Linked DNA regions of Homo sapiens. The protein of the gene in region 2 interacts with the protein of the main gene of each other region in a biochemical or structural test. Each region holds a gene or a part of one and is shown on either strand. Other genes may lie near its edges.

Region 1 (7,027 bases), on a different chromosome or scaffold from region 2:
GGAAAACTTGATTTAAATTAATTTATATTAAACAAATAAGGCCGGGCGTGGTGGCTCACACCTGTAATCCCAGCACTTTGGGAGGCTGAGGTGGGCGGATCACCTGAGTTCAGGAGTTTGAGACCAGCCTGGCCAATATGGTGAAACCCCATCTCTACTTAAAATACAAAAACTAGCCGGGCGTGGTGGCAGGCACCTGTAATCCCAGCTACTCAGGAGGCTGAGTCAGGAGAATCGCTTGAACCCGGGAGGTGAAGGTTGCAGTGAGCTGAGATCGTGCCACTGCACTCCAGCCTGAGTGAGAGCAAGACTCTGTCTCAAAAAAAAAATAAAAAATAACATCCGAGATACTTTATAAGTAAGATTTGCCAGTTGGAAAAGAAAAAGAAAACAGTAATATTCTAAAGCCATGTTTTATTCTTTATGAAAATATCTGGAAATTATGCATTTTTAAAATCATTTTTTTCTGTATTTCACAGAATTTCGTACTGGAAAAACCCAGCTTTCTCATACCCTCTGTGGTAAGGATATATAACAACAATAACAATAATAATCATGGCTATTACTTATCAAACATCTACTATGTGCCTGATACTCTAAATAATCTCATATCTGAACATACTTGCAAGGAAACTAAAACACAGGCAGATTAAGTAAACTGCCCGTGGTTATACAGCTGGTCTTTGAATGTGTGATCCTTGAGGTGATGTATGTGCTGCACTATGAACACCTGAGTAGAAATAGAGAGAAGTTGAATGGGTGTATGAATGTGTTGGTGAGGAGTCCACTGTCTCAGTTTTTCCCATTCCATCTTTTCTATATCTTTTTTAGAAGAGTGACACAAAATCTATTGAGTCCTAGAATCTTTCACTTTCCATGGCATAAAATTGGCCCTAAGAGAGACTTAAAAACAAAATTGTTTTAAACAAAATAACGAAAGATATCTCCTTTTCCACAAATACACTACTGTGCATTTCTTTGAGCTATGGAGAAGGAACTTGGCAAAGTGGTTAAGAAAGGAGTTCTGGCCGGGCCCGGTGGCTCACGCCTGTAATCCCAGCACTTTGGGAGGCCGAGGCGGGCGGATCACAAGGTCAGGAGATCCAGACCATCCTGGCTAACACGGTGAAACCCGGTCTCTACTAAAAATACAAAAAAATTAGCCGGGCATGGTGGCGGGCGCCTGTAGTCCCAGCTGCTGGGGAGGCTGAGGCAGGAGAATGGCGTGAACCCGGGAGGCGGAGCTTGCAGTGAGCCGATATCGCGCCACTGCACTCCAGCCTGGGCAACAGAGCAAGACTCGTCTCAAAAAAAAAAAAAAAAAAAAAAAGAAAGGAGTTCTGGAATCAAAATGCCGGACTTCAATCCTGGTTCTATCGTTAGTAGCTGTGTGACCTTGGGCAAGTTGCTCTACTTCTCTAATTTCCCCCACCAATAAAATTGAAATAATGACAGTGCCAAATGTTAGGATTGTTTTGAAAAGTAAATGAAATAATGTATGTACCTGGTATAAAGTAGCTCCTTAGTGTTAACTACTACTACATAAAAAGTAATTGCAGTCTAGCGTGGTGGCTCACACCTGTAATCCCAGCACTTTGGGAGGCCAAGGCAGGAGGATCTCCTGAAGTCAGGAGTTTGAGACCAGCCTGGTAAACATGGTGAAACCCTGTCTCTACTAAAAAATACAAAAGTTAGCTGGGCCTGGTTGAACATGCCTGTAATCCCAGCTACTGGGGAGGCTGAGGTCAGAGAATCACTTGAACCCGGGAGGCAGAGGTTGCCGTGGGCCGAGATCGTGCCACTGTACTCCAGCCTGGGCGACAAAGTGAGACCTGTCTCGAAAAAAAAAGTAAATGCATTTTTAAAATTTGACATACATTAATTTAAAGGTAACATATTAGTTATATAGCATAAATTATATTTGTGACTTTTTTTTTTTGAGACGGAGTCTCGCTGTGTCACCCAGGTTAGAGTGCAGTGGCGCGATCTCAGCTCACTGCAACCTCCGCCTCCCAGGTTCAAGCGATTCTCCTGCCTCAGTCTCCTGAGTAGCTGGGATTACAGGCACTCACGACCATGCCCGGCTAATTTTTGTTTTTTGTATTTTCAGTAGAGATGGGGTTTCACCATGTTGATGAGGCTGGTCTCAAACTCCTGACCTCATGATCCGCCCACTCGGCCTATTTGTGACTATTTCTTTCTTTTTTTTCTTTTTTCTTTCTTTCTTTCTTTCTTTCTTTTTTTTTTTTTTTTTTTGAGATGGAGTCTTGATCTATCACCCAGGCTGGACTGCAGTGGCACGATCTCAGCTCACTGCAACCTCCGCCTCCCAGGTTCAAGCAATTCTCCTGCCTCAGCCTCCAGAGTAGCTGGGATTACAGGCATGCACCACCACACCCAGCTAATTTTTGTATTTTTAGTAGAGACAGGGTTTTACCATGTTGGTCATGCTGGTCTTGAACCCTTGACCTCAAATGATCCACCCACCTTGGCCTCCCAAAGTGCTGGGATTACAGGCATGAGCCACCATGCCCGGCCATATTTGTGACTATTTCTTGTAGAAAGAAAGTTAGTAGGTTGGGCGCGGTGGCTCAAGCCTGTAATCCCAGCACTTTGGGAGGCCGAGGTGGGCAGATCACGAGGTCAGGAGATCAAGACCATCCTGGCCAACATGGTGAAACCCCATCTCTACTAAAAGTATAAAAATTAGCTGGGTGTGGCAGTGCCTGCCTGTAGTCCCAGCTACTTGGGAGGCTGAGGCAGAAGAATTGCTTGAACCCGGGAGGCGGAGATTGCAGTGAGCTGAGATTGCGCCACTGCACTCCAACCTGACGACAGAGCTAGACTCGTCTCAAAAAAAAAAAAAAAAGAAAAGAAAAGAAAAAGAAAGAAAATTAGTAATATTTAAATTTTATTTCCATTCTTTGGGAGAACTAACTTTCACGAATATCTTCCATTGTGAAAGATAGTGAAATTATTTGTTGAATAACAACTATGCTGGCAGAATACTTATAATTTCACACTGGTTAAGTAATATGAAAATATAACATGTTGTTTAGAAACGAAAGGATCATGACTCTTTGCAAAATGTACTAAAGAGTTGCAACAGCAGATTCCATGTGTATTTATATAGTCATGTGTACAAAGTTTATTCACTCCTATTAATATAAATTTTTAATTGCTTCCTAGTGACAGCTCAACTTCCAGGAGCTGGTGGCTACCCAGGAGGAAAGATTATCTTCATTGATACAGAAAATACTTTGTAACCTTTTTATTTAAAGTTGCTAACATAATAGTGTGATATAGGAATGTTACCACTGAAGAGTTTGTCTGAGATATACAATCTTTGTAGTCATTCCATAAACCAGTAGTAATGAGACAAACCAAAGGGAAAACAATTACTGTTTAAGTTCTCCAATCACTTTGTATTTAATGAGGTTTCACTTCTTCATATGGGTTTATGAGACAAAACAAATACATGAGAGGAAATTATATCATCATTTTTAATCCTCTTACTTCTCTAAAGATGTTGCTTAATAGTTAGAAAAAAGATTTTTTTTTTTTTGAGACGGAATCTCCCTGTTGCCCAGGCTGGAGTCCAGTGGGGCAATCTCGGCTCACTGCAACCTCCATCTCTTGGGTTCAATCAATTCTCCTGCCTCAGCCTACCGAGTAGCTGGGATTACAGGTGTGTGCCACCACACCTGGCTAATTTTTTTGTATTTTTAGTAGAGACAGGGTTTTGACATGTTGACCAGGCTGTTCTGGAACTCCTGACCTCAGGTGATCCACCTGCCTCAGCCTCCCACAGTGCTAGGATTACAGGGGTGAGCGACTGCGCCTGGCTGAAAGATTATTGACTCACTGAAAGTCATGGTCCCAAATGAAGGGAACGGTATGAAGAGGGTGAAAGTTAATAAGGAAAACAGGCAGAACCTGTTTGGGTAACACAACGAATTGCAGTTTAATTAAAGTGTAAGGTATTCCAGGATATGGGCTAGAAAGATGATTGGGATCTTAGACATGAAAGGCTTTGAAACAAGATAGTGGGTGTAAACTGGATACTTTAGCAATATTCTAGGCAAGTAATGAGAACTTGATCTAGGTTGGAACTGGTAAGAATAAAAAGAAAAGGAAAAGAAGTATTAGGAAAATTGATAGGACTTGATGGCTATATTTGGTAGACAAAGGAAAGACAGGTTTGAGAAACCGCTCAGGTTTTTTGTCTAGATACTAGGAGAATAGTTATGTGATGCTAACAATAGAACTGGAAAGATCATGCTTCAGAGAAAAAGAGAAAAGGTGATGTTTCATTTTAATGTACTAATTTTACTTTTTTTTTTTTGAGACAGTGTCTTTCTCCATCACCCAGGCTGGAATGCAGTGGTGCAGTCTCAACTCACTGCAACCTCAGCTTCCCAAGTAGCTAAGTTTACAAATGTACACCACCACACCTGGCTAATTTTTGTATTTTTAATACAGATGGGGTTTCGCCATGTTGGCCAGGCTGGTTTTGAACTCCTGACCTCAAGTGATCCACCCACCTCAGCCTCCCAAAGTGTTGGAATTATAGGCGTGAGCCATCACGCCTGGCCTAATTTTTTTCTTCTTTTGAGACAGGTTCTTGCTCTGTTGCCCAGGCTGGAGTGCAGTGGCCCAATTACACTCACTGCAGACTCGAACTCCCAGGGTCAAGTGATCCTCCCACTTCAGCCTTCTGAGTAGCTGGAACTACAGGCACATACCACCACGCCTGGCTAATTTTTTTTATCTTTTGTAGAGACCAGGTTTCACCACGTTGCCCAGGCTGATCTCCAACTCCTGGGCTCAAGCGATCTGCCTGCCTTGGCCTCCCAAAGGACTGGGATTACAGGCATGAGCCATTGCACCCAGCCATCATTTTAATGTATTGAATATGATGTACATGAGGATATCCAGATGGCACTGGGAAATATTGAATTCAGCTTGAGAAAGGGGTAGGCCCAGAAATATGGACGAATTAACCAAGGGGGAAAGAGAACTTATAGAGAGAGAAGAGAGGAGAATTGAGAACATAACTTTGAGGTATGTTTATATTTAGGAAGAGGACTAAAATGAGAAACCCAGAGACAGAGGAAGTAGAAGGAAATCTGGTTGTAAAAGTCAAGCAAAAGGAAAGTTTCAAGACGATGAGTTGTCAGCAATGTTACACACACACGGATTTTGAGGATACAGCCTGAGAAAGATCATTATAAGTTCAAAATTAGGAGTTCAAGCGAACATTTGCCATAGGGTGAGGTGATAGAAGCTTTATGTAAACAAACAACAAGGGAGGGAGGCAGTATGAAATTGACCAATGAAAGGAAGAAGGCTAGGCACCGTGGCTCACGCCTGTAATCCCAGCACTTTGGGAGGCTGAGGCGGGTGGATTACCTGAGGTCAGGAGTTCGAGACCAGCCTGACCAACATGGAGAAACCCTGTCTCTACTAAAAATACAAAATTAGCCGGGCGTGGCGGCACATGCCTGTATTTCCAGCTACTCAGGAGGCTTAGGCAGGAGAATCGCTTGAACTGGGAGGCGGAGGTTGCGGTGAGCCGAGATCGTGCCATTGCACTCCAGCCTGGGCAACAAGAGGGAAACTCCGTCTCAAAAAAAAAAACAAAAACAAATAGGAAGAAAAAATATACTAGTTTGAGGAGGTATTCAGAGGAAATTCTTTTTAATAACAAAGAAGACCTATGCACATTTGTAAGGCTGTTCACAGTGAAGCCCCAGCCTGCCTCTCCAAGCTCAGTACTCACCATTGCCACTATTAGAGGCAAAGAGATGAATCTGTTTTAGTCCATCCCATTGCCTGTAAACATACTTTGTTATCAAAATTTGCACATATGTCTAGTCTCACTCCAGTGATCCCAGCACTTTGGGAGGCCAAGGCAGGAAGATCACTTGAGGCCAGGAGTTCAAGACCAGCCTGGGCAACATAGTGTCTCTACGAAATAAATTTTAAATTAGCCAGGTGTGGTTGCTATAAATCCCAGCTACTTGGAAGGCTGAGGCAGGAGGCTTATTTGAGGCCAGGAGTTCATGATTAGCCTGGGCAACATAGCAAGACTCTGTCTCTACCAAAAGAAAAAAAATCTAAAAACATTGTACATCAGCAGTTATTTAGATTTAACTATAAAGATTTTTGTTTTCTTTGTTCATTATGGTTTCTTGCATCCCAGATGTTATTTTTTCCTGTATTTTTGTTTTGCTGTAATACTTATTTCTTTCAGAAATGTAATACAGGTGGTAAACTTTGAACCTTAGTATGTCTGAAAGTGCCTTTATTTTGCTCTCACTCTTGGCTGTTAATTTGTCTGGTCACAGAGAACTTTGCATGGTATATTTCTATCTTCTTGGGTATTTGCTCCTTCCATCCCCATCTCACAGTCTTTCTGAATCATACAAATCATTTAAGGCTCTCATTTCAAGGCCTGCTTTTTCTAATCTTCCCTAATTACTCAATTTAGAAAATCTTGTCCTTCTTGACCTATTATAGAATTTACTATCTAAAATACTCACTTAGAAAACAAAACAGAGAACTGTTTGCAGAAGTCCCTTTTCAGAAATGCCAGGCATAAGAAGTCTCTGAAAGAGCCTTTTAACTTGGGGAAGGAGGGTGAAATGTCGTACAGGGCTTTAACAAGGGTGCTCAGCTGGAGTTCAGCTGGTTTCAGAAACAATTGATTAAGGATGATTCTTATCTCAGAGAGGGAAGAATTGTTCTTGCAGAGTAGCAGCCACTGTTTGGGCAATTTGGAGTTTTTTTTTTTCGAGATGGAGTTTCACTCTTGTTGCCCAGGCTGGAGTGCAATGGTGCGATCTCGGCTCACTACAACCTCCATCTCCCAGGTTCAAGCGATTCTCCTCCTCAGCCTCCCGAGTAGCTGCGATTACAGGTGCATGCCACCACACCCGGCTAATTTTGTATTTTTAGTAGAGACAGGGTTTCTCCATGTTGGTCGGGCTGGTCTCGAACTCCCGACCTCAGGTGATCCACCCAC
Region 2 (7,027 bases):
AAAATTAGGCACAAAGCATTCTGAAAAGAGTGTAAAACTGGTCATTATAAATAAAGCCATAACTTACCAATCTGGGCCATAATCTGACAAAGAGCAATCTGTTTTAAATATGTGGATTTTCCACTCATGTTTGGTCCAGTTATGATCAAAAAATTACTCCCTTCTGTAACATAGGTATTGTTGGCAATAGGTTTTTCCGCAGATATTTTTTCAAGAATAGGATGCCATCCCTGTTTGATTGCTAAAGTATCAGTAAATTCTGGTCGAACTTAAGAAAAAAAATAGAATGGTTTTTAAAGATTAATATATTTGTGTCTAAAGATTTTGTAGTGTGTATGTATTGTCTATATCTTAGTGATTTTCACACTGGTCAATTTGGAATAATAACATTAAGGTACTATATTATCCCAAATCCCCACCCAAATTCTTCTAAATTATAATGGACACACTCTAATCACTATCACAACTTTTATTCACTTCTAGAGAACTCTAGAATTTAGTTCTTTACCACTGTCCTGAGCTCCAAAATAGTTTATAAAATTTTCAGCTTTTTGTAGATTAAAAAGAACCAAGCAGACCAGGCGTGATGGCTCATGCTGGTAATCCCAGCATTTGGGAGGCGGAGGAGGGCAGATTGCTTGATTGCTTGAGCTCAGGAGTTCAAGACCAGCCTAGGCAACATGGTCAAACCCTATCTCTACAAAAAAAAAAAAAAAATTAGCCAGGTGTAATGGCTCATGCCTGTAGTCCCAGCTACTTGTGGGGTTGAGATAGGAGGATCTCTTGAGCCTGGGAGGTGAAGACTGCAGTGAGCTGAGATTGTGCCACTGCACTCCAGCCTGGCTGACAAAGTGAGTCTCTGTCTCAAAAAAAAATAAAAATAAAAATAAAAAAGAACCAAGTACTCATTGATTGTACTTTAAAAATCATAGTTGGTTACTGGTAATACAGAGTTGCATATTTACTTACTCTACCTTAAACACTACTTCCCTACTTTAATATTATTTCAAATTTGGTACGCTTAGCATTTATTTATGTATTTATTAGAGACAGGGTCTTGGTCTATCACCCAGGCTGGAATACGGTGGCAAAATCATAGCTTATTGCAGCCTCAAACTCCTGGGCTCAAGCCATCCTCCTGCCTGCCTCAGCCTTTCAAGAAGCTGGGAGTACAGGCACCTGCCACCACTTCTCACCGATTTTTTTTTTTTTTTTTTTTTTTTTTAGAAATGAGGTCTAGCTATGTTGCCCAGGCTGGTTTCAAACACCTAGCTCATAAGTTGAGGTATGATTATAGAATAAAATCAAATATAAAAATAATTCTTTCTAAGCCCATGGAGAAATTTTGTATAAAAGGAAATTTCAGAGAATGAGAATAGAGAAGATCAACACAAATAATCTGCTAATCTATAGAAATAAATAAGGATCAGGTCTCTATGGATACCACCTGAAGTGGGGGGAGGAGGAAGAGGGTGAAAGCATATGTGAAAACCAAAATGTTCCATACCTTTATCTAAAATGCATAAACTTGAAAACATTCATCATAAAAGTGAGGTTAGAAAAAAAATTTTAAGTATTTTCAAAAATTCATTATTTATAGATATGGAGTTTCAGAATGATCCTTCTCAAACTAAAATGAAGCAAGACTAAATCTCTTAATAGTTTAAAAACAAAACTACCATTGGAATATCTGACCCCTAAAGTAGAGTTTTGATGCAAAGGAGATATAAAAGTTTGAAAAGTTTTGGCCTATAAAATACCAATAGAAAAAGTTAATATTTCCATAAGAAATATGAAAAAATCTTAAGATACATCCCATAAAAGTAAATTAACATAACATTTTAGAAATTTTACTGCTGATTTACATTAGAAATTTCAATGTTTTTAATGTAATGAAGTCTACAATTATTCAACCATAATTATCACATACTAGTCCAGTAAATTTGCATACTGGAGTATGGTTATTACTGGTAAGTTAGATAAGAAATGTCAAAGCACTAACTCGAAGTATTCATTTAACATGAGAAAATTACTTAACATTTATATTCATGGCCTTTTTATAGACTTGGGATATAAAAATAAATTACATAATTCCTAATTTTGGTATGTTCACATCTAAAGAGCTAGTGGATTAAAATGCTCACTCTGGAGATGCATTTCTCTCTATTAACGTTTATCACGCTGCTTCTAATAAGTATTCAGATTTGAACTTTATAAATTTAGATCACTGTCATTTTTACCAAGGAGACAGCTCTTACAGTCTTTCTTATTTGGGGAATCTTTAGTTTCTTGCAATTTTTTCTTTTTGGTTTGCCAATTTCTGAGAGAATAATTTTTACTTCAAAAAAAATTTTAAGGGTAATCTCACTTTCTTTATTTTGTGTCTTAGTCTAGGACCAGAGGCAAGAGACTCTATTTCAAGTTAAAAATTTTAAATGTCATAACTATTATATCAAATTGTTTGAATCGAATACAAATTTAACTATGCAATATGTTTATTCCAAAGAAAGCAACTTACCATAGTCAGAAAGAGTGCAGGCATGAGCAAATGACAGTAGCATATCCAGCATTGACACAGTGTCAGATAGTTTATATAAGCAATGAATATGTTCATAAATCTCACTAAGCAGTTTGCACACTATCCTGAAAACACGTTTGGTAAGACATGTAATAATGTTTTTTCAAAAGGGACATACATTGTAATCGTAAAATAATATTAAATTCATTGCCTGAAGTAAAATAATATTCACATCTGAGTTATACACTATAGATAAAGCCTATTGTTCATCTGTCTCATTTTAGAGATGAGGAAATTGAAGTTTTTGCTCAAGATCACAGCTACTTAGTGGCAAAGAATCTATCTTCTTGTGTATTAACATAACATTTTTGAAATAACTGCTTTTATATGATATTAATAAAATAAGTTTTTATTATTAAGAATATTTGATATAGGTCAAATCAAGCCCTCATTATACTTGGAAAGATCCCATTTGCTAATCACTTTGTGAATTTGCAAATGTTAAGTTCAACACAAAAACTATATGCATTTTCTCTCTCATCCATTTTTTCTTTCTCTCTCGTTCTTGTTCTCTCACTCACACACATGCACACAGACACAATATCTGAATAATATAATTATTTAAGTTTTTATAAGGCAGAGTTATACTGTGATATAGTGCAAAAAGTTTTTCTCTTGCAAAGATAAATATGTACCCAAAACTTACTATATATTAAAATGTTGGTGGTACATGCCTTGAAATTGTCTTGAAAGCCCAACCTTTCTCTTTATTACTTCAGCCTAATAAGTGTTCTAAATCTTCTACTTCTTCTTTCTGGCTGTATTGCTACTATTTCATGACCAGCAAAAGAACTGACACTATTGTGATATTGCTATTGAATTATTAATATCAAGGTATAAGAAGCTGAGGACTTACAGACCATAGGAAAATAATAAACTGAACGAAGCCCAGGTAAGCCCCTGATGTGCCAAGTTCTACATCATGGTAGAATGCACATTACAGAAATATCAATTATAAAAGTATTTGTTTGCAATTAGATCTTCCCCGAAGCTTCTGTGAGGCTCAGTGATTCTAATCACAAAGACAGACTTCCTTTGCTAACATGCATAATTCTACAATTGTCTGTAATTAGATAAAAATTAAACTAATACAATTGTAACAGTTTCTCAAATTAAACCAATTTAATTCAATATTCAAATACTTCAAATGCTCTTACATATAAGTCATGTGATAGATTTCTCTCAAAGATTCTTGGCATCTTTCATTCATTTTAATTAAATCTGCTGATGTAAAGCTGTAAGAATTTTTCACTTTAGAAATCTGCTTGGAGATTAAAAAACAAATGTCAAGATAAATGCACACTACTATGAAATGTAAGATTTTAAACAACAGAAATATGGGTATTTAGGTTAATCATTTTACTCTTTGAGATATGGTATCACAAAGAAAGTTCTAAATAATATTTGTGAAATGTAAGAGGTAGATCACTTCAAAGGATAAAGCCAAATTTTTTAACCCATACATTCATTTTTAAAAAGCAGGATATTTTGACCTAGTTCATCTGGGATGACTACTCTGATAGGTCTTAAAATGTTAAAAACACTACATCTTATTACCAAGTAACACGCATGATGGACATCAGTGATCCTCACTCCATCTCTGACCCCTGTCGCAGCCCTTGTCCTATATCTGAACCTCAACTCAATCTCTAATCGTACTCAAGCTCTAAAAGCCTGAAAGCTAAATGGTTTGTTCTTATCAAAAAGTACCCCCTAAGCAGATAGAACAAAGATTAGAGTGGGTTAGACTTTCCCAAACTGGTATATTGTAAAGGAGCTATATAGGAAAAATTATTCCTGTGGTACAAAGGTTTGGAAATATTAGATTTTTAAAAGTTAAGTAGATTTATTTACTTCAGGACTTTTTAAACCTTTAACAGGCAAATGGTGTGGTATTTTCCTAATTTCTTTTATCATAAACAGCTTTTGGATGTTCTTTCTTCATTTTCCTTTTTTTCTTACACCAAGCTCCCAGAACTGTGGAAAACACTGAGTTTGGTATTTCTGCAAAAGCATCTAAATCACTCTTAGATTAGTACATTAGTTAGGTGGGTGGGTAGGAATAGGAGAAGATACAGAACATTCAGAAATTTGGCTTGCAAAACTCAAGAAGTCCCAAAAATATGTAGATGTAATTCTATAAAATCAGAAACACTAATTTCCTAACCACTCTAAAATGAACCTTAATAAATTCTGAAGGAAGTTGATCACTAGGTAGGGCTATACAATCTGTAGTCATCTGGATGAAAAATCCTCGAGCAGAGCTAAAACTTGTCCTTAAAGGTAGACTATATTTTTCTCCAAGTTGTGATATCATTCCTGGTGACCAGAAACAAGAAAAACAAAAACAAAACAAAATGAATAAATTTTAATGAGAAAAATCACTCTGTTTTAAAGAGTCACATGGTTTTTAAATTCTTATTTTATACATAAATAGGAGGTCTTGTTGCTCTTTCAAACTCTAATAATTTTTTTTTTTTTTCAAGACAGATCTCACTCTGTCGCCCAGGCTGAGCACAGTGGCACAATCATAACTTACTGCAGTCTCGACCTCCTGGGCTCAAGTGATCCAAGTGATCCTCCTACCTCAGCCTCCGGAGTAGCTGGGACTACAGGCATACATCACCATGCCTGGCAAATTTTCTCAGTTTTTGTAGAGACAACGTCTTGTCTCTACAAAAGACTAGCTATGTTGCCAAGGCTAGCCTCAAACTCCTGGACTCAAGCTATCAGCCCTCCTTGGCCTCCCAAAGTGCTGGGATTATAGGCATGAGCTATTGCACTTGGCAATGGAAGGTTTTCAAAAGGAGTTTAGTATGAAGGCTGCCACATATGCTGTTTCCTTAAATGGCACTACATGCTAACCTTATGTTTTGGTAACGAAAAATAAATTTAAAATATGTATGGCTAGTCATCAGCAGCAAAAAAGGACAGCATGTCCTGAAAAGGCTGTTTTATCCCTACAAAAAACATTATCAAATAAAGAAATTACCTGCTATGTCATCTACAATCTCTGTGTATGTTCTTCTTGCTATGTCAAGAAATTCATTTATGTTAGACCTCACTGCATAGCACTTCTGAGTCCTCATGTTTAGGCATCCTTTCATGTATCTTGCATCATCATTAATTACTGTTTTAATCTTTTCAAGTATGATTCCAAACCTAATATTAAGGCCAAAAGAAAAACATTATAGGCAATAAGTCAAAGAGTTATTTTAATTTATAATTTGAATCACAATTGATGATAGCAAATTTTTGTTGAAAGTTATTTTGAAATAACTAATTAAGCAACAAATATTTAAATTTACTTAAGTTAGAGCTGTGACTATTTCATATTTAAACTGTTTCATCAGTCAGGACTAGTCTAAAACAGCATCAGGACCCCAAAAACAATTCTACATCTGCTAATAGAGCTCACAAATTACATATACTGATGTGCCTGTGGGTACAAAATACATCTCTAAAGAACTGTCATAAAAATTGTGGCTTCATGCTCATTCACTCAATAAACATCAATGTACACCATGTATCAAGCACTGTGCTAGGTGAAGAGATTCAGAGAAGAATAACATATGATCCCTGCCTTCGGTAGAGGCAAGAGACACTAAACACATATGTAGACAGCGTAACAGGAACCTCACAATTACCAGTGGTAAAGTTCAGTGATTATGCAAACCAGAAATCTGGTAACACATATTTTCCTCAACTTTTCCTTCATTCCATTCTATATTTTATTTGTAATTAAGCCAGTTTTATTATTAACTTCAATGTGTGGCCTCACACGGGATAAATCTTCAATTAATAGAATAATAGTTCTTAAGTATCACAAATCTTTTCAGTTCAGAACCAAGGTCTGGATTGAACCAGTAGTTCTTCAGTCCACAACTACTGCTAATAATTTAATACTGTTAAAATTAAACAGCATTTAGATTGTATTCAATATTTATATCTACTATTTTTTGTTACATTAGACCCTTCATGATTTAACAAAATAAAGAAATATATTTTTATTATTTGCAAGTCTTTCCATGGAGAATGGCTTTAAAAGGAAATATTAAAATTGTGCTTGGATTTCAAGTTTTCATGCTATTCTAATTGTCCTTTAACACAAATAATCAATGTGTTGTTACCCTATTTATTCTACTTATAATGTGAAATGTACAATTAGAATTTTGATGAATAGGTTAAAGATTCTGTTAACCAAAACTCAAGTAATTGTTCCATAGAATACAATTAGAGTCTTTAAAATCAGTTATGATCAGGAAGAAGAGAATAATCTTATTTTTTATTAACGGTTGAGTGACAAAGACCTCTTGTCTTCCAAGGAACCATAGTAAGCTCTTAATAAAGGTGTGTTACAGTTCTTCATAGCAATCTATTAAAGAATAAAATAAAAAAGTTAAGGATAATCAATTACAAGATCATTCAAACATATCATTTTACAGTTGT
Region 3 (7,465 bases), on a different chromosome or scaffold from region 2:
CATCTCATAGGAATCTAAAATATTATTACATGCTTCCTGGAAATTGCTCCTCTCATCGGAAGTCACACGCTTCTGAAGAGTAGCATCAAATAAACTAAAACCATTATCTTCACTAAATTCCTTAATATCCTCACCTGATAATTCCACAAATAATTTTTCTTGCTTTAAAAACATTTTCACTCCTTCCTGAATGCAAAACAAGAGAGTGTCCCAGTTCTGAAATTCAATCAGAGTTTTGGCTGGCTCCATGCACACATCATACTCACAGAATTGGCACTGCACATTAATTACATATATGCCATAGAGTTCTGGGGTAGACCGGTGCCGAAGACTTGAATTCATTTGCCTACTGGTGGGACCATTCTTTGGCTTGCATATAATACTTTCTTTCCTTAATAAAAAGTCAATGAGTTTATGTAGCTTTGTCCTTAAAACTAGTCTTTTGTTCACAAACAAAAACTGCATATTCTTGTTGTAATGTGCTTCAGAGCTGATATAGCCACTAAGCTCAAACTCTTTATATTTAAAACTTATTTCTCTTAGCTTTTGGGACTTTCCCAATCCATAAATTTGACAAAATCGGGAACATACGTCTTTGGTTTTAGGGAGCTGAAGAACCATGGAACCAGAAACATCATTTCTCAAAGAGAAAGAAATGGAAGGGTGCATGAGTGAGAGAGCTTCTATTCTCTGCCTAACCTTCTCAAACTCCAGTCTAGGGTCCATGCATTTCCTCCTTACAGGAAGCTGGTAAAATAGGTTATACACTGTTACAGTAGTCCCAGCGCTTGCTCTAGTCACATCAGCTTCACAAGCTTTCAGGGCTTTTCCACTCTGAAACAGTTTCACAAAAGTTTTCATTGTCCTGTTTTTCTTGGACGAAATTTCCACAGCACTGGCCATGTCAGCAATATTTGCCAAGGCCTCTCCTCGGAAACCATAAAACCTTGGATTCTCCAAGTCCTGTACCGAGTGGCATTTACTGGTGAAATAACGATTTCCCACTTTCTCTACATCATCACTCCCCATCCCAAATCCATTGTCTATCACTTGAACTTGGAAGGTTTCCATATTCACCCTGACAGCCACACATTTTGCTTCAGCATCAATACTGTTGAGGGCAAGTTCCTCAACACATTGGCCCAAGGAGCTTATGGCCAAACCAGAACGCAATTTGGCTTGTACTTCAACTGACAAGCACTTGATCATGGTAGGTAGAAAGATGGTGAGAATGCCAGGCACTGGTTTCCTTCTCTGACTGGAAATAATTGCCTATTGGAGAAAAAAACCACACACGCACATAATCAAAGCTTTAGCATTACACAGCATTATGAAGAAATAGCACTTGAGGTAAATGAAATCACTCTTATTAAACCAAATTGTGAAACAAAGCAAAACAAAGTTATACCGCTGATCTCTAGGCACAGCTCATGCTTGGTGCAATGGATTAACATCCAAAAAAAATTCATAATTTCATAATTTTCAATGCTCCTTTCTAAATCCCACATGTCCTAAAGTGAAATCATAATTACACTTGAAGTTGACCAGTAAACACAGTATTCGAAATTCTAACCACTTCACCAAAAACAGATGCCTAAATTAAATACAGCTAAGGAACATTAGCTAGAAATTATTCATGACAAAAATGTCCAAGCTAGTTTCATAACATTTATACATTACACAATAACCATGACTTTTAGAAAAATACTTATAATGAATTGCTAAGACATTGTAATAAGGTGAAGCAATAGGAAGAAATTTTAAGAATCAAATTGTATCAAAGAGAGATTGGGGGCATTAAGAGGTTATTATTATTATGGTTAAGTATAGTCACCTCAGGGAAAGAGGCTGGGAATGGGAAAAGATAAAGCAGGAAAATTCCTTTTCATATAAACCTTTCTTTGCCATTTGATTGTTAAATCCTGTTCATGTATTACTCTGATGTTTTTAGAAAGTCGTTATTATTCTTTTTTGAAACAGTCTCACTCTGTCACCCAGGCTGGAGTGCAATGACACAATCTCGGCTCACTGCAGCCTGCACCTCCCGGGCTCAAGCAATCCTCCAGCCTTAGCCTCCCGAGTAGCTGGGATTACAGGCGCTCGCCACCATGCCTGGCTAATTTTTGTCTCTTATGTAGAGATGGGGTTTCACCATGTTAACCAGCCTGGTCTCGAACTCCTGAACTCAAGTGATCCTCCCGCCTTGGCCTCCCAAAGTGCTGGGATTACAGGTGTGAACCACCGCGCCCGGCCAGAAGGTCATTATTAATATTCTTTTGGTCTTTACAGATGGGCATAAACTACCTTGGTAATAATAATGATGGCATGGGGCTGCCTGAACTTGATTTTAAGTTTTCCTGCAAGTGAAAACACAAAAACAAAAAACAAAACAAAAAAAACCAAACCCTAAGATTCCAGTGCCATTAAAGGTCTCCCCTTCTTCTCCATCAGTGAGAGCCACGTGGGTGGGCCCCTGCAGGCGGTGGGGCCGGTTTTCCAAACTCGGGACAAATCAGGGCTCTTAACTGCAGAATTTCTGCTGCTTTCTAAGCTAATGCACTAAGCAGCCGGCAGCAACTGACGGGTAAACGTTTAACAAGTATTCCGATTAATGTAAACCCAATGATTTCCTGATGACGCCTCCCAGCGCCTGGGACTGACGGGACGCACGGGCCTGGATCCAGGGCACGGGGGCCTGGGAGGGCCGCGCGGGCCGAGTCCGGGGCAGCGCTGCCTTCCCGCCAGGCCCAGCCCCTCCCTGGCCAGCCCCGTCCTTGTCCCCAAACTGGGCCCGCCCGGCCGCCAGGCCGCCGGGCCTCCGGGGCCCTCGCGCATCCGGCTCCGAAAGCTGCGCGCAGCCATCATCAGGGCCCTTCTGGTGTTAGAAGAGACCCCGGCATCATCTTTTCGTCGCGTGCTTCCCCCAGAGTCACCTGGAGTCCCGCTTAACAAATTCTCCGACACCAACCGCCTCGGACGCCGACGCGCGCACCTTGGATCTTGAGGCTCGTGCGTGCCCACGAGCATGCGCTTCGGAGGGGGCGCGCCAGGCCGCGAGACACCAGTGCGCATGCGCACCAGTTGTTCCAGCCAAGGATCCGCATCCCAGGGTTCAGTGAACCGGTACCTACAGTCTCAATCCTTATTCCCTTTTGGCATGGTGTTAAAGACTATGTCGTAGCTTTTACTTTTGTTTTTATTTTTTTTTCCCGTGTTTTCCCTTTCCTTTTTTTTCTCATTTTCACCTTTGCTCTTAACTACCGTTTAATTCAATATATATTTTATGTGTTTACTTATTGTCTTCTCTCCCTAGAATGTAAGCTATGTGAAGGTAAGGAGTTTATATATTTTGTTTACTGCTGTATCCCAGTTACCAAGAACAGTGCCTGGCCTATGGTAGGCACCGAATGAATGAATAATTCCAGAGCCTGCCATCTTAGAATTATGGCATTTGGAGCTGGAAAAGGCTGAGAAACTGTCTAACTCAACTCTTTTTTTTTTTTTTTTTTTTTTTGAGACGGAGTTTAGCTCTTGTTGCCCAGGCTGGAATTCAGTGGTGCGATCTCAGCTTACTGCAACCTCCGCCTCCAGGGTTCAAGTGATTCTCCTGCCTCAGCCTCCCGAGTAGCTAGGATTACAGGCATGCGCCACCACACTCGGCTAATTTTGTATTTTTAGTAGAGACGGGGGTTTCTCCATGTTGGTCAGGCTGGTCTCGAACTCCGGACCTCAGGTGATCTGCCCGCCTCGGCCTCCCAAAGTGTTGGGATTACAGGCGTGAGCCACCGCACCCGGCCTTTGCTCAACTCTTAATTTACAGATGACAACACCAAGACTCTCTTCACTGACTTGAATCTCCCCAGTGCCACCACAGCTTTTAGTTATAAAAATAACTAAAGGAGAGCAGAACTCTGAGAATGCTGTGAGAATAAAGTGTTTTGGAATTGTTAACCAGTCCTTAGTTTTTGCTTTCTATCTCATTTTCATTGAGAATTTAAAGTGGAATTTATAACGAATTTGTCAGACCTGGTAAGCATTTGATATATGCTAGTTTAGTGACTAACCAAACCCAACCAACCAGTCTTCTAGGGCTGATTAAGCAAAATCCTGATAACTGTTTATGATTATTACTATACCTAGGGCTGCCATAACAAAATACCTCAGACTGAGTAGCTTAAGCAGCAGAAGTCTATTTCCTCTCAGTTCTAGAGACTGGAAGTCTGAGATCAAGGTGTTGGCAGCAACGATTTCTCCTGAGGCCTCTCTCCTTGGCTTGTAGATGGCCATTTTCACAGGGTCTTTGATTTTTGCACACGTGTCTATAGCCAATATGTTCTCTTATAAGAACACCAGTCAGATTGGATTAGGGCCCACCCTCACAGCCTCATTTAATCTTAATCACCTCTTTAAAGGCCCTATGTCCAAATACAGTCACTTTCTGAGGTACTGGGGACTGAGACTTTAACATATGAATTTGGTGGGACACAGTTCAGCCCATAACATAACTTTATGTGAATTCCTTACCCAGAGAAAAGAAACAACAGCAGAAGTAATTCATCCAAACATAAGGTGAACAGAGCTAACAAATTGAACTTGTGGTATTTGTTCTTATTAGGCATGGAATTTCTTGAAGAACATTTCATAGAAACCATTTAAAGAAATGACTCAGACTTTTTTTCTTTCAGACCTCTTTAAATTACCTCAAAATCCTCTTCCTACAAATGTTTACTGAATAAAGACCTCTCATTTCGCCCAAAAGGAAGTTCACTGAAGATTTTTTAAAAGTACTCTAAGCAGAAGGTTCTAACGTTTTTATTGATTAGATTTGTGTACAGTGGTAATCCTTCCATCATACAGGTAATATATAATAACATTCAAAAATCTGACATTAAAATAACTTATTGACTAATGCTAATATTAACACACAATAGTTCTATCTCTATTAATAATAAAAACCAAACCACTGAGTTTATCTTAGAAAACTTAAATTCAGGCCATTATTTTACAATTTGGAAGTCTGAGTAATCCAACTTCAAGATGACTTTTTCATTGTTGAAGTTTGCTTTGTCGATGTGTGATTTAGGACTTCCTCTTGTTTCAAGCCATTCCTGCATATGACGCACCTTGGAGATGGGACCTTGCAATTGTCCTTGCACTGTGCCCCGGTCAGTGTTCTGGACCCAGCCTACCAATCCCAGCTTTTTACCCTCAGCCTAAGGGGGGTAAAAAGAGAGAGAGATCCAGTGAGATTGAAGAAAACAAGGTAAGACTACAATCTGTTGCCAGAATCTTGGCCTAGAATCAAGCCACTGAAACTAATTTGATATTGCCCAGAACAGTCAAAAGAAAGACAGCAAGAAGGATCTCATTGCTTATCTTCACATGAAGTATTGGCCACTTGACTGCATGTCTTTCTTCTACCCTATAAAACCCAGGCACTAGAATTTTTCACTGTGTAGTCAATTTGGTTAAGTATCAAAGACTTAAGTCCAAAACAGATGCTTTTGAAATGATCCCCTAAGGCTGATTGTTTTTAGAATACTGGACTGTATCTTGCTCATTTTCCCTTCCCCTAATCAAGAATCTATTGGGTATGTTAAATGGAAAAAACATGAAGTTATCTGATCCTTCCCTTTGCCTTTAACCAGGACCACACGTAAACAAATCCAGATGAATTAGTGTTCATTATATCTTTAAAGATCATTAGAAAGTATTTCACAATTTCCTGGGCAACTCATCCCGTTGTTCTTACTGTAGTGAAACTGTCTAACCCAACATCTTTATGTTGTAGCCAAAGCCCACTTTATTATCTTCCTAGAAAAGGAAAGCAGCTGGTGTTCAGCCTCTCAACAGCAAACCATGAGACTACATAACTATCAGGTTTTCACTTCACTTTCTTCTCTTCTGTCTAAATAATCACAATGCCTTTAGGCTTATAAAAAGCATCTAATCATTACAGTGTCTTATCCTTTTTAATGTTCTTTCCTTTTATTAAACTGTGGCAAGACTGAATGTTTAGGAAAGGTAGCAATGTTTTGGAGGTAATTTTATTTTTGTATAAATTTATGATTAGAATATTAAGTCATTGATTGTTAAAGTAATTATCTAAATAGAAGATGTTGGATTACAAAAGAAAATGGGAGTTAACATGATTGCATGTCAAAATGTGGGAAATTGCTGGAGTTGGCCAAAGAAAACGTTATGCATAGCAACAAAATGTTTGATGAGGAATTTAAGTATCCATCAAATCAAAGACATGTTCAAAGCAAAGACATGTTTGCTTAATGAACAAAACAGACTCCAGCCAAATAAATAACCATTTGAGGGATACAAAGGAAATTAAGGAATGAAGAAAAATAGAAGATGCCTACCTGATGCGCTGCTAAGTGCCAAAGAAGATACCATAAAAGAAGAATGCTGAGAATGAATTTTGAGTAAGACTCCGCATCCAACTGACAGGGCAGTATAACAACTGCCCTCTTCTGCTTCAAATTAACCCAGGGGAGCTGACTATCTCCAGTTCTTAAGAGTTATCTTATATGGTAAATAGCTGTAAGAATGTGCAGTTTTAAACAGGAGGTTGTCACAGTCAAATAAATCTTTAAAAATTTGCAATGTGATTTATCTGAACTCTTTTTTTTTTTTTTTTTTTTTTTTTGAGACGGAGTCTCGCTCTGTCGCCCAGACTGGAGTGCAGTGGCGTGATCTCAGCTCACTGCAAGCTCCGCCTCCCAGGTTTATGCCATTCTCCTGCCTCAGCCTCCCCAGTAGCTGGGACCACAGGCGCCCGCAACCACTCCCGGCTAATTTTTTTGTATTTTTAGTAGAGATGGGGTTTCACTGTGTTAGCCAGGATGGTCTCGATCTCCTGACCTCATGATCCGCCTGCCTCGGCCTCCCAAAGTGCTGGGATTACAGGCATGAGCCACTGCACCTGGCCTTATCTGAACTCTTGAGAGTTGAACAGAACACTCCAAAATTTGACCAGTGTTGAGAATGGGCGTTTCCTACTGGTTTCATTTGTGTGCTCAACTCTGTTCTTATTTTTTTAATGATGACATAATGTTATTGACTCATGTTCAGTTTTGAATATCTATTGCACCAACAGGGTTTTTCTCCCCTAAGAAAATTCCAAAAAGTGAATTCTACCTCATAACCATATTTTTGCTTAAACAATCATCTGACAACATTTCAAGGACTGTAATCACCACCTCTAGTTGCAATCTAAAAAGAAACTCTCTTCAAATCAATAATCAAGATTTCCACCTTAGGATACTAGAAAAAGAAGAGCAAACTGAATTCAAAATGAGCAGAAAGAAGGAAATAAAGATTAGAGCAGAAATTAATGGAAAGCAGAAGAATAGAGAAAATCAATAAAACAAAAGTTGCTTCTTTGACAGGATCAACAAAATTGACAACCTTTAGCTAGACTGATAAAGAAAAACGGATGAAAGCCTCAAATTAC
Region 4 (7,027 bases), on a different chromosome or scaffold from region 2:
GTGATCCATTTATAATTTTAAGAACGATCGTTACCTCATTTGAAAAGAAGAGCATTTATCAACATAAAAGTTAAGGAAGAAATACCCAAAGCTTAAAAGAATCACTAAATTATACTGTATCATAATGTGGTGTGTTTGGCATTCAGATGATTCTGTACATTTTTCACAGTGTGACAAGTGCACATACTGAGAAGGTGTCACTGTGCTTTGCCTGGCATTTAGCTGACTGTGATGTACATGTGTGTATACCCAATGCACACACCAGGAGTAGCTATGTGCATCACTGGATAGGGGATTGGTGTCTTCTATTTTAGAATGTAACTTTTGAATCCATGTTATTTTTAAAATTAGTTTTAAAATTAATCTATTTAAAATTTCATTCTAATCAAATGCAGAACCTATGAATCACCTCTGTGGAATATAGTCTGCTCTAGAAATGTTAAATAGCCATGGGGTATTTGACATAATAGAACAGAGCTTTGTCTTCATGGAATGGGCATTCCATAAACATTCACTAGTATATCTTAAATATTTTTATTAAGTATTTATACTTTAAATATTTTATGAATATTTTACTAAATATATTTTCTTTTGGTGAATATTTCTTTAAATATTTTATTTTTATAAATATTTATATCTTATTTTATCTCATATCTAAAAATATCTTAAGTATTTTATATCTATAAATAGTCCTCAAGAACACATTAGTAGAAAATGCAAAGTTAGTAAGACCGTGTCCTGTTGTTTATTTTTGCCTGCAAAATACTAAGTTACTCTTTTTCTTGTTCACAGGCTAAAAGGTCAGATTCCTGAAATTAAACAGACTTTGGAAATTCTAAAATACATGCAGAAGAAAAAAGTAAGTGCATTTTTGTTTGTAAATATGAGCAAGCTAGGATATGTCAGCAGAAACTCGTCTTCTTTGACTCTTTGGTCACTGATATTTGATCTGTGCTGTGGAATCCAGTCTGCCTTCTTAAGCACATACACTAATGTTATGATGTGCTTCTGTAGCAAATGTGGCTTTGTGGCCTTCCCCCAAAAGTCAAGTTTAATTCTAGGGCCCACACTTGGATTACTTTGCTTATCTTTAGTGCTTGTGAAACTTAAATGCAATTTGAAATTGTTTTAGGTGTACAAAGAAAATGTCTTATTCTGTGCTAGCAGCATCTAGGGTTTTTTCTTTGTTGTTGTCTTTCTCCCTAAGAATAAGGAGTTAGTCCAAGATTTATAGAGCTGGAACGAATCTTAGAGATCATCTGTTACAGGTTCTCATTTCATAGTTGAGGAAATGGTTATGGAGAGGTTATACTCGACCATTGTCTATGTAGTTAGTTACTGGCAGAACTAAATTTGAGAGTCTTCTAAGTCTTAATCCAGTATTCATTAAATAAAAGCAGGTTGTAAAGATTAAATCTCATAAGCATATTGTATTTAAAAGATTGTGTGTATGCTTATGATTTTGCTTGACTGGTAGAATAACTATTTCTAGTACATTTTAATATGTGGTGAACTTTGTAAGACTTCAGCAACTGATTGATTGGGCATGAAGCACCAATGAAATAATAGAAGAATGGCTAATTCTTACAATAATGCCTTCTCTGTATGTCAGGCACTCGGGGGTGTGTGTGTGTCTGTGTATACTCAGTGCTTACCACTGACTTCATAGGTGTAGGGACTGTTGTAATCCTCATTTTACAGATGAAGAACCTGAGATATAGAAGTTAAGTGAGATGCCAGATTTGTACAGCTAGTGAGTAGCTGAGCCAGAGTCCATACCCAGCCACCTGGGTCTAGCATTCATTTCTTTTACCACTACACTTAGCCTGCATGATGGTACTGTTTTAAATGTCCTAGGTTCAACTGTGCAATCTCTCCTTTATAACCTTGGTATCAAACTGGCCTGTTTATGGTACTGTCATTTTTTTTTTTGTTTTGAAGGAGTCCACCAACTCAATGGAGACCAGATTCTTGCTGGCAGATAACCTGTATTGCAAAGCTTCAGTTCCTCCTACCGATAAAGTGTGTCTGTGGTTGGGGGTAAGTAAATGTTATAGCCACAGCTGATATATTTGTAAACCAGTGTGTTTTCTGTAGCAAACACACTGGTTTTGCTAGTATTTGCTAGTATTTTAGTAGTATTGCTCGAGATATGTAAAGTGTTCATCTCCTTTTGATTGTGGAAGGGACAAAGGGACAGAGTCCAAGTGGTTCATATTAGAAATTGACTAGAATCAGAAGTGCGATGAAGATCGCAGTAAAAACATACTGAAGTCTCTCCCAATCAAGATAAAACTGATCAAACAAACCCTGCTTCTCTTCCAGTTAGTGCTTTATCTCTCTTAAATATAATGGAGGAAGAGCAATAGAAGTAAAATAGAAGGTACTGCTGAACTTTAGATAAACGCTTCTTCCCATAAGAGTTTAATAATTCTAGAAAGATCCCTCTCAATTTAAGGGGAAAAAGAGTATTGCAAAAAGTTTGAGGTTAGAGTTTATTTTTTAAAACCATGTATTTCAGTTTTAGATGATTTCATTGAGCTTATCTGTGATTTACCTATTTTGCTCTTCTCAGTCCTCTGACTATCCAGCTACCTGTCTGTGGATCTTGTTACCTCAGGCAAGTTCTCATACAAAGTAGCAAGCCAAGTGTACTTCTACCAGCTGTCCTACGGGGAGGATTTCCCCTAGCTGCTGTCCTGTAGGATCACTCTGGAGAGGCACTCTAGATTAGCCCAAGGAGGTTTGCTCAAAGTTTGTACAACATTTATATTTCACTCTACAATCTGCATTTCAGTATTTATCTTTTATAATTTATCACTAAGGCTTTTTAAAAAATAACTTTGAAGCATAGCAACTACACCTGAGTGTCCAAGGATTCAATGATTTTCTGTATTCAGTTTTTTTGTAGAAATTGCATGACCTTTTGATTCACAAATTCAAGTGTTACTTTATTTCAGGAAAGATAATTTCTGTTGTGTACTTGAATGTGACTTTTGCCCCATTTCTTTTATTATCTTTTGGGAATAATAAATATGCATATGTTCGATCTCCTTTATCTGTTTTCAGTACCTATCATGTTCTCTGTTTTCAGTTATTCGATGTGTTTCATTCTGTGTGATTTCCTCTGGCTGCTTCCCCATGACTTTGTGTTTTCCCTGGTAGTTATTCTGTTTTGTTGCTTTTACTCTGTCTTTTGTAACTGTTCTTCTGTTTCTCTTTCTCTTCATTTTCTTTGCTGAGCTCTTCTTGCTCTTTTCATGTTTTTCTTCTTTCATTCCTCTTGAATGTTTAAATCCTCATTTCACCACTCATAGACTGGCACTTCCCACAATCTTCTCCATCTCAGTAAATGGCAGAATCTTTTGCCTGGTTGCTCAGAACAAAAATCTTTGAGTCTTCTTTGACTCTTCTTTATTTTATATCTCTCAACCAGTCCTTCAGCAAACCCCACTGGTTCCTTCTTCTGAATAGATTGAGAAGCCAACTATCTCTCACTTCCTTACTGCTGTTACCATGGTCCAGGCCACCTTTGTCTCTTGCCAGGACTGTGGGAATACTGTCTATTAGTTTTTAGGGATGCCATAATAAAATTACCACAAACTGGGTGGCTTTAACAACTGAAATGGACTGTCTCATGGTTCTGGAGGCCAGAAGTCCGTGATGAGCCCCAGAATCAGGGTCGATTCCTTCTGAGAGCTGTGAGGGAAAATCTGTTCTAGCCTCCTCTCTTAGCTTTGGTGTTCGCGGACAGTCTTTGGCATGTTGATGTGTAGAAGCATCACTGTGATCTCCGCCTTCATCTTCACATGTGTGCATGCATGTGTCCAAATTTCTCCTTTTGAAAGACCTTATCTCCAAATAAAGTCACATTCTGAGCTACTGGGGGTTAGTAGTCCAACTTATTTTTTGTTGGGGAGACAGAATTCAATCCATAATACCTTACTTCCACGTAAGGTCACATTCGCTAGTATAAGGGGTTAAAACTTAAATGTATCTTTTTTGGGGACACTGTTTAACCCATAATAATACCCTAATTCACTGTCTTGCTTCTGCCCTTGCTGGAATTCCTAAAGTCTTTCCAGCACAGTGGTCAGATTAATCCTTTGAAATCTCAATCAGGTCATTCCATTATTCTGCCCAAAATCTTTGAATGGTTTCTTATCACATTCCGAGGAAAAGTCCAAGTTCTTTGAGTGGCTGACAAGTTCCTATACATCCTGGTACTCTCTGTTACTTCTCTCTTTTTTTTTTTTTCTGAGACAGAGTCTCACTCTGTTGCCCAGGCTGGAGTACAGTGTTGTGATCTCAGCTCACTGCAACCTCTGTCTCCCGGGCTCAAGCGATTCTTGTGCCTCAGCTTCCTGAATAGCTGGGATCACAGGCACGTGCTACCATGCCCAGCTAAATTTTTTGGTAGAGACGGGGTTTTGCCATTTTGGCCAGGTTGATCTCGAACTCCTGGCCTCGGGTGATCTGCCCACCTTGGCCTCCCAAAGTGCTGGGATTACAGGTATGAGCCACCGTGTCCAGTCTCTCTGTTCTTCTCTTACTTCCTCGCTTGGCCACACTTGGACTTCTTGCCAGACTTAGAGCATGCTGGGAATGGCCCTGCCTCAGAACCTTTATTCTAGCTCTTTCTTCTGCTTAAGCTGCCAGAGTAGTGCTTTTAAAACATGTCAGATGATTCCGCTTTTCTGCTCAAGACCCCAGTGGTTTCCCTGTCACCAAGGGTGGAATACAGAGGTGTCCTTTCCACAGGACAGCCCTACTCCCTCTCAGCACTCATTTATGCTCATTCTTTTGCTCACTCTGCTGTAGCCATGGTGGCCCCCTAACTGTTCCTGGAACCTGCCAGTGTGGCCCCACATTTCTACTTCTGTGTTCTTCACACTCAATCCTTTGAGTTCTCAGTTCTGATTGTTAGCTCCCCCAGGGACCTGCTATGACTTGTCTGTCAGCATTTCTTGGTTTCACTTGTACTGTTTATCTTGTATTGTTTTCCTTCAAAGTACTTAGCACTCCCTGATATGTTATTGATTGGTGTATTTACCAGTTCCCTGACACATAATAAGTGCTCAGTAAAAATTTTTCTTGGGTGAATGACATTTTTGTTAGTTTTTCATCAGAGTTCATACATGCTAATGGTTCAAAGAGCAAATAGAAAGCAGCAGGCTACTGCTCCATCCCCAGATGCACCCACTTTTAATCATGTCTGTACATCTGTATGTACCTAAATATTTGGAATTTTGTTAATTGTTTTTACAAAAATGGGATATATATTGTATATTGTTCAGCACAGATGTCTTTATTTGTGAGTAGACACAGAGTTTGCCTCCTTGGTTTTATTGGCTTACTATTCTGTGGTAGGGCTATGTGATAATATTCCCAAGTCAAGGGGTGTTTGGATTGTTTTAAAATTTCTTGTACAGTGAGCGGTGCTGTAGTAAATATTTTTGCACATATAGACTTGTATACAAAGGCATATTTTTGTATGCTGCTTTGAAATGGAATTGTTGTGTCTAAGAGTATGCACATTTAACATGTTGATGGATACTATCAAATTGCTCTCCAGAAAAGACTACCAATTTTCATTTTCTCCAACCGTATATAAAAATACCCTTTTATTAACAGTCTCACCCACATTTTTAGATTTTTGCTAGTTTTATAGGTGAAAATAGTATCATCTTATAGGTTTTTGTATGACAAAATGCTCATTTGTATTTCCTCTTCTGTTTCCCTTCCTGACTATGTTGTTGCTCCATTTTTCTGTTGGATTCTTTTTCTTTTTTTTTTTGATAGACATTTAGGTCTTCTTTATATATTATGTATTTCGGATGCACAGTCTTCTCTTAATATTGCAGATACTTTTTCTCATCTGTCACTTGTCTTTTGTGGTAGCTCTTAGAAGTTTTAAATTTTAATGTAATCGACTTTATCAGATATTTATAATTTTATCTTAACAGTGTACTCCTTTCACCAAATCTGCAAACATTTTTTTCCTAATATTTATATACTTAAATTTTTTAGAAAACTTTTTTGTTAAGGATAACATGGAAAGATAAGCAACTCCTCAGGATAATGGGTGAGTGACTTCCAAAAAGAGGGCCTCCCAATGGCCAGTAAACATATGAAAAGTTGTCCCACTTCATTAGTAAACAGGGAAATGCAAATTAAAAGCACAATGTGATCTCACTGTGTACCCACCGGAATGGTAGGGTGATACTAAGTGATGGTAGGACATGGAATAGTGAGAACACTGATTTACTGTTGGTGAAGGTGTAAATGGACACAGCCACTGGGGAAACTGGCAGTATCTGTTAAAGCAGAACATATGCATTGCCTATGCCATAGCAGTTCCATGCCTGTCTCTATCTCTTTCTGCCTCTTGCTGTATATAAGAAATGTATAAATATTAACTAAAAGAAAGGTATAAGAATGTTCATATCAACTCTGTAGTAACCAAAACCTGGAAACAACCCAAATGTTCATCATAGTCGAATGGATGAGTAAATCATGATGTGTTCAGACTGTGGAATACTATACAGTACAGAGGAGGAATGAACTGCTGCTACACGCCAGCACTGCAAGGGTGATTTTCACAAACAAGGTTGAGTGAAAGAAACTGCATAGCAAATTACCACAAACTCAGAGGCTTAAAACAATATCCATTATCTCCTAGCTGTATAGGTCAGAAATCCAGATGGGCTTGGCTGGGTCCTCTGTGCAGGGTCCCACAAAGCCAGAATTAAATTGTCAACAGGGCTGTATTCCTTACTAGCATCTCTGGGGGAGAATTAGATTTCAGCCTTATTCACGTTATTGGCAAAATCCGGTTCTCTGTGGTTGAGGTCCCTGTTTCCTTGCTGCCTGTCGTCCAGGAGTCAGTCTCAGCTTCTAGAGGCCACCTGCAATCCTTGGCTCATGGTCCTTTCTGTTTTCAAAGCAGTGATATGACTAGTCTTTCTTACACTTTAGATCTTTCAAACTTCTCATTCTGCTGCCAGCCAGAAAAAGTTCTCTGCTC

The links.
Region 1: the proteins of MSH4 (region 2) and DMC1 form a complex in vitro, tested with the Homo sapiens proteins (one study listed by BioGRID).
Region 3: the proteins of MSH4 (region 2) and MLH3 form a complex in vitro, tested with the Homo sapiens proteins (2 studies listed by BioGRID).
Region 4: the proteins of MSH4 (region 2) and VBP1 form a complex in vitro, tested with the Homo sapiens proteins (one study listed by BioGRID).

What each region holds. Positions count from the first base shown.
Region 1 is NC_000022.11:38,546,160-38,553,186, reverse strand, and holds part of DMC1 (meiotic recombination protein DMC1/LIM15 homolog), read left to right. Parts: intron 1-479; coding exon 480-521; intron 522-3,189; coding exon 3,190-3,262; intron 3,263-7,027. UniProt on the Homo sapiens protein: Participates in meiotic recombination, specifically in homologous strand assimilation, which is required for the resolution of meiotic double-strand breaks.
Region 2 is NC_000001.11:75,876,862-75,883,888, reverse strand, and holds part of MSH4 (mutS protein homolog 4), read right to left. Parts: intron 6,954-7,027; coding exon 6,889-6,953; intron 5,741-6,888; coding exon 5,571-5,740; intron 4,898-5,570; coding exon 4,761-4,897; intron 3,840-4,760; coding exon 3,736-3,839; intron 2,644-3,735; coding exon 2,519-2,643; intron 269-2,518; coding exon 68-268; intron 1-67. UniProt on the Homo sapiens protein: Involved in meiotic recombination. Required for reciprocal recombination and proper segregation of homologous chromosomes at meiosis.
Region 3 is NC_000014.9:75,048,447-75,055,911, forward strand, and holds the start of MLH3 (DNA mismatch repair protein Mlh3), read right to left. Parts: upstream 3,022-7,465; 5' UTR 2,934-3,021; intron 1,273-2,933; 5' UTR 1,210-1,272; coding exon 1-1,209. Other genes in the region: ACYP1 (acylphosphatase-1 isoform c precursor), read right to left, coding at 4,998-5,213. UniProt on the Homo sapiens protein: Probably involved in the repair of mismatches in DNA.
Region 4 is NC_000023.11:155,226,443-155,233,469, forward strand, and holds part of VBP1 (prefoldin subunit 3), read left to right. Parts: intron 1-792; coding exon 793-859; intron 860-1,941; coding exon 1,942-2,040; intron 2,041-7,027. UniProt on the Homo sapiens protein: Binds specifically to cytosolic chaperonin (c-CPN) and transfers target proteins to it. Binds to nascent polypeptide chain and promotes folding in an environment in which there are many competing pathways for nonnative proteins.